Regions from separate parts of the Homo sapiens genome. Here region 1 is reported to be linked to region 2. The links are microRNA targets in miRTarBase. Many come from high-throughput screens and were not tested one by one. Region 2 holds a microRNA gene; the other region holds the end of a gene's coding sequence.
The links. Region 2 holds the annotated microRNA hsa-miR-197-5p (CGGGUAGAGAGGGCAGUGGGAGG, at 2,466-2,488, opposite strand). A microRNA usually pairs through its seed, bases 2 to 8, with sites in the 3' UTR of a target mRNA and lowers its output. Matches are read on the target gene's strand: a 7mer-m8 pairs with bases 2 to 8, a 7mer-A1 pairs with bases 2 to 7 and ends in A, and an 8mer does both.

Region 1: the mRNA of LETM2 is a reported target of hsa-miR-197-5p. Seed matches in the 3' UTR shown: 7mer-A1 at 1,642-1,648.

The regions. Positions count from the first base shown.
Region 1 is chr8:38,407,446-38,412,825 of GRCh38, forward strand. It overlaps LETM2 (leucine zipper and EF-hand containing transmembrane protein 2), which reads left to right. Exons shown (of 11, transcript NM_001286819.2): 10 at 1-18; 11 at 767-2,082. The coding sequence ends at 829. FGFR1 (fibroblast growth factor receptor 1) reads right to left here. Exons shown (of 18, transcript NM_023110.3): 18 at 3,698-5,380. LOC102723716 (a long non-coding RNA gene) reads right to left here. Exons shown (of 4, transcript NR_188043.1): 1 at 3,449-5,380. Among named protein-coding and RNA genes, the nearest start is that of LETM2, 24 kb to the left of the region's middle. RefSeq lists a silencer at 2,306-2,355 and an enhancer at 4,968-5,380.
Region 2 is chr1:109,596,009-109,601,388 of GRCh38, reverse strand. MIR197 (microRNA 197) reads right to left here and starts at 2,496; the gene lies at 2,422-2,496. GNAI3 (G protein subunit alpha i3) reads right to left here. Exons shown (of 9, transcript NM_006496.4): 9 at 1,194-5,380.

The DNA of each region.
Region 1 (5,380 bases), not on the chromosome of region 2:
ACTTCTTCTGAAGAACCTGTAAGTATCTTTAATAAATGAAAAAGAAAGAGAAGACCCTTTCCCTCTAGTTATCTTTAAGGGCAGTGAGAATCTAGAATTAGTCCTGTTGCAAAACACTGCACAATTCTTCCTGTTGTCCAAACAGGAAATTGTAGGCCAAACTTTAGTCATCTTGTAACCACGTTTTTTACTTCAACTATCCAAAAAAAAAAATTGTGGGTCAGACTAAAACATGCAAAGTGTAGAAGTCAGTTACAATATAGGCAGACCCTTTTTTTCTTATGTGCCAGGTGGAAATAGTTTCCATGTGTTATTTTACACATGCTTCCGACGTGAGGAAATACTAGCTGGAAAGCAACTTTAATTTCCAGAGAAATGCATGTAAATAAGAAACTACTTATCTATCATCCAGTTTTCCCAATTGGGTGAAGGGATTTGGGGCAAGAGCACAGGGCATGAAGAGAGTAAACAGTGGGGAGGTTGTGGGAGAGTTGAAGTGGGAAGTGGCTCCTGTGGACCAAAGACATGGCTGGCAGGACAGAGAATCTATGAAGACACAGATGGGGTAAGCCCAGAAAAGCATCCCAAGGCACACACATACCTTGTTTTTTGTAAATCTCCTTTATCTTTTATTACCAAGGTAAATTATAATCTCAGATTTGACTTTGTGGTCACTATTTTGATTAAGAAAACAAAAATAGCATTCACTCCTTAAGAACTTACACGTCTGTGACTAATGCCTACAGTCCTTGTTTTTTACGCCTAGACACTCCAGGCCAAATCACAAATGACGGCCCAGAACAGCAAGGCTAGTTCAAAAGGAGCATAAAGGACTACTTGAGGATGGAGCTCACTCTCTTCAGCTTCCGGCCCTCAACAGTGGCATCTGTAAAGGACCTCCCAGATAAGACTGTCTGGCTTCAGAGAGCGGATCAGCTGTTTAGCCCGTGGGGCAGTCCTTTGAGGCCTGGTAACCATTCCAGGTGATGTGGGTAGTGAGACCAAGTTCAGACCACTTAGAAAAATATAATTGCAAAGTCCCATTTCCTCTGTACCATTGTCACCCCACTCAACTTTGTATAAAGCCCACCCCCCATCATGTTGTTTTTTTAGTTTCATGTGTACGTCCCTTCAGAGAGGAAATTTTTTGCACAATGGAATCAGCTTGGCACCTTAGATACCTGTCTCCTATGGCTTGGAATTCTGAGTAAGAACTTGGAAGTTCCAAAAACCATTTTAGGAGCACCTGATTAACTTTCTGAATGATCCACCAGTAGGATCAGCACCCTGGAAACAAAGTACCTTATGAGATGGGATGGATATACTCCCCAGTAAGATCTTTCTGGATATAATGAAGCTTCCTGGAGAAACAGACTGGCAATCAGAAAGATTTGGCTGCTTCCGACACCTCCATCTTGGGCCTGCAGAGGCTGCAGCAATCTGTGAGGCAGCCGCAATCTGCGAGGCAGCCACTCTTCTAGCACATATGGCTTTCATTAGCCACCATTTTGCTAGGAAGCATAATTAAGGGTTTAAGCCTTAACCATGTTTGTGTTGGGTGTGTGTGTTTCTGGCCAGTTTGTCTTTCACAAATAAGACTATTAGTCATAGGGATTGTGAAAGTCTGATATAATCCCTGTGCTACCCAGCAACAAGTATTACATTAGGATATTTATGCTTGGTGTTTTCAGTATTAATAATATGAAATAATAGATAGACTGCCATGCAGCTGACCAAGGGCTTTCTTCCCCTGGGGAGTGGTTAGAAGGCCAAAGGTATTTCAGCCTGTAGGTGATAAAATTAGATTTCTTTACTTGCTGTGGTTAGACAGCAGTCAGTTAAAACAAGTAAAACTCCACTGTCCTGTCTGGGATCACCTAAATGAGGAATGTCACCAGCACTTCACAGCAAGAATATGCATTCTACAATGCTTTCTAAATTTGTGCTCCATCAGAGAAGCCCCACCATGTCCCACTAATGAAGCCCAGTTCTTTGGGAATGATGAATCCCTACTGTGCACATACAGCAATCATGGATCCTGCCTATCGAGGTGATTCACAATACACTTTCCCATTTCAAAAATGACGGGTATTTTAATTAGTCCACATTTCAGGTGTTAAATGTGGGAAAGGGATTAGCTAAACTTGCTCAATTCTGTTTTAGCTGAATGAGTCATAGGTACTGCTGGGCTGTCCTACAGTTCCTTCTGGCTTTCCCTCCGAGCAGGGTGGGAATGAGCAGTGACCTGGTCAAGGGACCCGGGCCACTTGATAGACCTCTCCTCCCACTCTTCTGCTAGCAGCTCAGAGAAGTCAAGGATGTTTTGTTGTTCTCATCATTTAGGGTGCTTGGCTGTTGGGTTCAGTGATCCTTACATCTAGCCCCAGCTAGTGGTGTTCTGGTAAATCGTTAACCACCAACTCTTTGAGCCTCCCGGGGTAATGAAAGTTACACCTCTAGTTAGCATGTTTATGAAATAGATCCCTTCTGCACGCGAAGACCTGCATGTAGGGCAGTATGGTGGAAATGGTCCTGAATACTGTTGACGGTCCACCTAGAAGGAACCCGCCCAGACCAAGTCTTAGCAGTTGGGTTCTTACTGACCACCTTCTTCCCTGGCTCTCCTCAGTGGAGGGAATGGAAGGCTGTGCCAGCTGTTTCAGAGCTTTCTCCTCTCTGCTCCCTTCTCTATAGATGCAGATGCCTTGGCTCTACCTGCCACTAATGATCTCATTGGGTATGACTTTAGATTTTTTTTTTTTTTTTTTTTTTTCTTTTGAGACAGTCTTGCTGTCACCCAGGCTGGAGTGCAGTGGCACGATCTTGTCACTGCAACGTCTGCCTCCTGGGTTCAAGCGATTCTCCTGCCGCAGTCTCTGGAGTAGCTGGGATTAAAGGCATGCACCACCACGCCTGGCTAATTTTTGTATTTTTGTAGAGATGGGGTTTCACCATGTTGGCCAGGCTGGTCTTGAACTCCCGACCTCAGGTGATCTGCCTGCCTCAGCCTCCCAAAGTGCTGGGATTACAGACATGCGCCACCATGCCTGGCCACTTTAGGCATTCTCTAAAAACCCAACTACAGTGATGCTAGATGTGTCCTGGGTCTTACACACAATTCTGCTACAATAGAGAGGTGGTGGCCACTGACACTTAGGGCCTTGCACCTGTGTCATGTCTAATTCTAAAATCATCCCAAAACGAGCCACATCAGTGCTGCCCAGTTTTTCTGTAATGCCAAATCTAGGCTAAAGATTTCCCACTCACCACCAGCACACACTAGCAGGTAGTAGTTGGACCAATGTGACTTGAGAGCGGACTGGTGCTTCACCTAATGCCAACTGAAACTTCAGCTCGCTGGCTCCACCCAGTGGTGGCGAATAAGCACAGCAACCTCATTAACAATGAGACAGATTTCTTGCCTCATTTGATGCTCAATCTTACTTACCTGAGATCAATACATTACATTAGCAGGGCCAAGGGACCGATGATCTCCAGCCTATGGCAATTAGAAGAGACGGAAAGGCAGTATTGATTAATGCTGTGGTGATCCCAGCCCTAATCTTTTAACCCTCAGGAAACCAGACAGACTCAGTGCCTTCATGGCACAACATCTTCATTAGATAAACTGGATTCCTTTCCTCAGGAGACCCAATTTGGTCCTCTAAGTAAAACGGCCATTTCATTTTCTCTCAGGTCAATTTCACTGTCTTTTATTTGACAGCTAGCGCAGTCTTTGGGGAAATTTGTGGGTGATTTGAGTAGTAACAGCAAGGACATCACTGTAATTATGATAGTGCCTTATATTTTTCTAGCACCTCTCCCAAGGACTTATGAAGACTTTTAGATTCTTCATCCCTTCACACAACATTGCTTCAAGGTAGGGCCAAGGCAGAAATTATCATCACTGTTTTACAAGGAAAGACACTCCTGTGCGGTCTCAAAGCAAATGCTTTTAAGAGCTAAAAATTCATTTCCTAGTTCTGTTCACCAAATGATGCCTTCTTTAAACATAAATACAAATTGTAATGTTAGCAGGTGCTATTTACAGAGAGAAACAAAGAGAATTTTACAATAGTCGCCAACACTGCAGCTGCCAAAAAATCCCTAGCTCAGAAATTTAAAGCAGCAATCCCATTTTCCCTACAGAAATGAAAACATATTGAACTTTCTTTTGTATTTAGCAGTAATCCAGCAAAATATAAGCTTTAATATAGCGACTGAGGAGTGGTAGTTTGAGCCATGAGGTACGGGGGAGCCAGAATCCACTTAGTGAGGACAGTGATGACCAGCAGGTGGCAGAAGTAAATTCCAAGCAGCCAAAAAACCAAAAACATTCGGAGAATTTTCCCCCCGTTCCTGAGGGACAGGATGGAGTTTGGACAGGAAGAACTGTAAGAAGCCAAGATCTGCGACAGTCCCAACAAATACAGTCTGGTCACATGGATACAGGAAGGACGATCTGGGGAGGCATACCAACAAGAAACGAAGCCAGGGACCTGAATGCAAAACTAGCCTCAGGTGACATGTTCTCCTGCACTTAGAAGCACTGGCAAAACCATGCCCACATAGAGGGGGCAGACACATGTCTGGGTTTCAGTTTCTGCAGACCTTCATCATTTGTTTTCCTTTTTGTTTTCTCTGTTGCCCAGGCTGGAGTGCAATGGCGCAATCTCGGCTCACTGCAACCTCCGCCTCCCAGCTTCAAGGGATTCTGCCTCAGCCTCCTGTGGAGCTGGGATTACAGGCGTGTGCCACCATGCCTGGATAATTTTTGCATTTTTAGTAGAGATGGGGTTTCACTAAGTTGGCCAGGCTGGTCTCAAACTCCTGACCTGAAGTGATCTGCCCACCTCGGTGTCCCAAAGTGCTGGGATTACAGGCGTGAGCAACCGCGCCCTTGCTTTCCTCTTAATCACTGTAGCTCTACCCCGTGGCTATTCCTAGGTAGGTGCCCCCTCCCCAGCCCAACCCCACCGGTTTCCTTGGAGGAAACCATCCATGGTCGATGGCTGCTGGGCCTTGACTCTCTGCCCAGCGCCTCTACTGCATGGATGGGGTTCCTGCCCTCGAAGCAGACATCTTCTTTTTCTGACTTTCCAAAAGCAGCGGAGAGGCAGGAGGTGCGTCGTGAGGTCTGGGTGCAGGACCTAGGAAGAAGAGGTTACAAGGAACCTGCGCCGGGAGCATGCGGTGCCCTCGGGACAGACCTAGCCCCAGGGCCCGTGGGTGTCCCTTCTTTCCAGTGGACATTCCCACCCTTTTCATACAGCCCATAGATAAATGAAGCAGCAGCAATTTTTATTGAGGGACCTAAACTGAAAATAGGTTTAGAACATAATTTAAAAAAATAAAACAGCAAAAGTAGCAAAAAATATAT
Region 2 (5,380 bases):
ACAAAAAACCTGGGAAAGACTTCTCATATTCAAGAGCTGTTCAGGAACTACTCTGAATATCATGCTCCAACCATTACTAATCTGTTCACTTTAACTCAACATACAGGAGTTCTGAATCTGTTTTGTATCATGGATCCTTCCGGCAATCTGATGAAACCATGTGCCTCTTTTCATCATCATATTTTTAAACACGTAAAATTAAATTCAGAGAAATACAAAGAAAACTAGCATATCAAATAGTCTCTCTGTAGACTCGCTGGAGCTCTGAAGCCCCAGGTTAAGAACCCTTACTATACAAGCTATGATCTTGTCTATTCAGGCCCCAAACATAATTTATCCCATTTATTCCATCTCCAAATAGGATAGCCCTACTTTCCCTCAAATAGTACCAGATTGTTGATTATTTTATTAACTTTTCCTTGGTCTTTCAATCTAGGTATAAATTGGTTATTGACCAAACTATAAGTCTAACTCAGGATCCTTGGTTATTAATGTTCACACAGAACCTGCCTTATAGTACTAGTACAGAAGCAGAGCCAGTGGGACAGGTCTTCTGACAGGTCTTAGGTCAGAACACAAGTCTCTAGCAGACTAAAACATGGTTGTATTTAGTCCTCTTCTTTTGGGATAGCTGGGGGATATCCCAACTTTTAACTGGTTTATCAACAAACTCACACAAGCCACCTTGTACAAACATTATGTAAAGTGTTCATCTTGGAGGATAGAGCAACATTCTATAGCTGTTTTTTTACTGAGTTTGGGATCTGCCTATATTCATCTTATGATGTTTTCAAGCTAAAACTCTTCTGGCAAGTCTACATGAAATGCAACAGGGGCCCTTGAGCACCCATTCACCTATTACCTTAGAACACAGTCAGAATAATTTTCTCAAACCCTTGGTCCAGAATGGGCTCTCCCATGATTAAAGGTAAGAGGACTTCACCTCGATGCTCTTGATAGGCTTCCAGAAAAGGCATTCACCCTTACCCTAGCTCAACTGTTTGTCAGGCCCAACGATTGTTCCCAAACCTTACATGTTAGAGCTGCAGAAAAAGTGCATTTGTACTTTTCCTGCACAATTAGCTTATTTTTATCTCATGGACATTTTGATTGTATTCATGAAAAGTTCTTATATAAAACAGCTATAAGAAAGATTAAAATAAAAATTAAGTCATTATCTTTCTTTTGCCTCATTTTAAATTTACACCGTACTGTTGAATTTTTATTTACTTTAAGCCATCAAGTTTTTTTTTTTTTTGTAACCAGATCAGAAACAAATATTTAACCCTATTTTCTGGCATGCAACCTTAATTCTTAAGACTGCTAAAGTTAGAACAAACTTAAAAATAGTCCAGCCCCATCACTAGCAATTTATAGATCAAAAACTGAAGCCCAGGAAGGAAGAGTATCTTCATCAAGATCACAACGCTAGGCAGTAGCAGAACTAGAACTCCAGAACAGGTCTTCTCAATCCAAAGCCTGTGATGATGTCCAGCTACCAACAGAGCACCATACACTATAAAATCAAAGCCAATTTCTTGTTCTTCTAAGCTCCTCCCATTCCCAACCAAATTCTTGGTCATTTTTTCATTATGCCGTCTCTAAATCGTGGACATTTAACAAAACCACCTCCAAGCTAAGACAAATAGATCTCAAAATAGAATATGAAAACAGCATAAAATCACAAAAATATAACTAAGTTTGCTTGTTTGTTGAAGGTAAAATTTCCTCTTCATATTCTTAGAGGGAGAGACCATAATGTACTTCCCTAGCATAGCATGATTAAAGAGACATTACTAACAGTAAATCAAATGTAAATTACGTTACATTTCACATAAATCTGATAGTTTTCCTTTTTTAGACAAAAATACAATATGATTGACACAAAAGGACAAATACTATGATTCCACTTATATGAGGTATCTAAAATAGTCAAATTCATAGAGACAAAGGAAAATGCTGGTTACCAGGGGCTGAAAGAAGGTGGGGCATGGGGAGTTACTGTTTAACAGGTACAGAGTTTCAGTTCAGGAAGATGAAAACAAGTTCTGGAAATGGATGGTGGTGATGGCTGTGCAACAGTGTGAATGTACTTAATGCCACTGAACTGTACACTTAAGATGGCAAATTTTGTTATATATGCTTTATCACAATTTTAAAAATAGAAAAAATATACTATAATTAGAAATTTGTATTTCTGTGGATAAAAGGAAGAATGGATAAAAGCGGCACAAAAGTTGTCTTAAAAGCAACATAAAAGACACATTAACTTGAAACAGTTCCTACTCTGGTAATAAAATCCACTCACATGTACCTCCAAATAGTCCAAAACAGAGTATTCCTTCCCATCCCCACGGTGAGACATAACAGCATTCAAAACCCACTCTATACTTGGAGATGTGCCGTAGACCAAAGTGTGCCGGCCATGCTGGGTGGAGAAGGTGGTGAAGGGTGAAGAGCTCTTACCTCCCACTGCCCTCTCTACCCGGCACAGCCCCCAGAGCACAGATTCCAGAAGGATTTCGGTGTTGGGCCAGGGACTGCAAGTGTGACAGAGCCTCTGGTGGTCCTGCTAGGTAAAAGCATGAAAACATTTCTGTGAGGTCAGAAGACACTGGAGACTGCAGAAGGGAACTTTTCTGTCTTTTTGCCATGAAAAAGCACTAGTATAAGCAGAAAATAGACAGCTGGATTTAAATGTAAAACAAAGCAAAGACCTTTTCACCCTGCTTCACGAATTTTAGAGCAATTTATAGTTCAACTTCATTTCAGGTCTTCAAAATGAATATGGGCAAAGTAATGCTGTAAAAGACCACCCACTACGTTGAATACCTTTGTTGGTGCTGCCTTAGGATTTTTTTTTTTCTGTGCAGTATAATCCTGAGTATCATAACATTTACAAAGCATTTTCAAATATGTTATTTCTATCTGATGAGAACCACAGAATATCACAGCAGGAAGGAATAATTTAGTCCATCTTTAGATAACAGATGAGTGATTTAAGACTGAAAGAATACACAAGATTCCATAGCTGGTTGGAAGCAGAGACAAGACCAGAACCCAGCATTCCAAACAACTCTCCAACCTCGTAAGATTCTGAGAGGTCTCAGGACCTTTATCCTACATGAGCAAGAATAAACAGAACAGGTGATTTCTTGTGTTTTGTTGTATCTACTGGAAATCTCTCTTACATATAAATAAGCATCTTAGTAAAAATGTCTGGATAACCTAAGGAGAATTTTGGGCGTAGGGAGAGGTAAAAGATAAGAGGAGACAGATAAACCAGGTTGTTCATAATTTAATATTCCTGCTGTCACAGATTTTATAGCTTAGTGAATGCTGGTACACTGAGATACTTCTATCCCAGCAGTGTATTAATATTTATTATTTGATTATTTCTGGTACCTTGTGATTCTCACTAGATTTCAGGAAAACACTAGCACTGGGCATACAAAGGCTTTTACATGTGACTCAATCATTCCCCTTATATACCCCCGTACCCATTTCAAAACGACTTTCATTCTAGTTTAGAGCTAGCTAGCTTTGCTTTCTCTACCAAGTGTAAATAAATATTCATGTTATTACATATACTGTTATCTGTCACAGGGTTTTATCTTTAATTTGGTGTATCTTTCAATTTTCACTGCATAAATAAATGCAGTAAAATAAATGAAATGAATGTTTGGACATCCTAGGTTTCTTGTTGTCTTAATTTTGTATAAAACTAAATACTCTGTATCCAAAGTGTAGGAATGTTATGTGACCCAACAGTTTTCAATAATTTTCTTGGTGGAAGGCACTTTAAGTCATGTACAAATGGTACTTCTTATTGGCAAAAAATAGATCACTCACTAGTGATTTTGAGCTTATTTGTGCACTGAAGTTGCTTATTTTCAATATTTGTGTTGACTTTAAAAAAAAACAAAAAAAAAACAGACTCACTCTGTCGCCCAGGCTGGAATTCAGTGGTGCGATCTCGGCTCACTGCAACCTCTGCCTCCCAGGTTCAAGCGATTCTCCTGCCTCAGCCTCCCGAGTAGCTAGGATTACAGGCATCCACCACCATGCCTGGCTAATTTTTGTATTTTTAGTAAAGACGGGGTTTCACCATGTTGGCCAAGCTGGTCTCAAACTCCTGACCTCAAGTGATCTGCTTACCTCGGCCTCCCAAAGTGCTGGGATTACAGACATGAGCCACTGTGCTCAGCCTGTGTTGATCTTTAATATAGATTGAGCATTTCAAATCTGAAAATCCAAAATCTAAAATGCTCCAAAATCAAAAGCTTTTTGGGTAACAACATAACACTCAAAGGAAGCACACACTGGGGCATTTTGGATTTCAGATTTTTGGATTTGGAATCCCGAACCAATAAGTATATAATGCAAATATTTCAAAACCTCACAAAAATCTGAACTCTCAAACACTTCTGGTCCCAAGAGATTTGGATAAGGGCTATTCAACCTGTATTAGGTCCTACTCAGTTGTCCCCAAATGTTGGCCCAGATTGGCTACATCAAAATCACCTAAGGAATGTATTAAAAACATGTATATTCCCATGACCTGGCTCAGACATTTTAATTTACTAGGGTTTAGCCAAAGAATCTGCTAAATCAAATTAACCATGTACCCCAGGTAACTACTGCTGTTTAACATTCCTTCTTACCTCTTATTCCTGAGAAGATTTGAGTCAGCCCAGGCCTAGGCCTGATATGGTATCAGAAAAAAAACTGCCCTGAGTGGGTGGAGTGGTTCACATCTGTAATCTCAGCACTTTGGGAGGCCAAGGCAGGCAAATCACTTGAGGTCAGGAGTTTGAGACCAGCCTGGCTAACATGGTGAAACCCTGTCTCTACTAGAAATACAAAAGTTAGCCAGATGTGGTGGCACATGCCTGTAATCACAGCTACTTGGGAGGCTGAGGCACAAGAATCGCTTGAACCTAAGAGGCAAAGGTTGCAGTGAGCAGAGATCGTGCCACTGTACTCCAGCCTGGGCAACAGAGCAAGACTGTCTCAAAAAAAGAAAAAAGAAAAACAAGAAAAAACTGCCCTATCCTGACATGTTCTGAAGTATGTTGTTCTCAGCAGAACTAACTCATAAATGTTGAGAAAACTGGGGGGAAAGGAGGGAGAGAAATGATCTTAAAAACTAAAAGATAAAGGCATAAAGACCTTGATCATCATTAAAGTTAGTTCTCCAGTGCCTGAAAAAGGCTTTCTTTTACTCCCTGATAGTTGTCAGCAAAATCAACTTTCAACTTGAGGTCTCTAGGAAGCCTGCCTTTTTCTCTTGTGCTTGTTGGGAGCAATACAACAAAATATGATGATCATAAAGCTATGTAAAGAGCTGAGGCTGATCCAGGTCAGATCCCTGATTTGC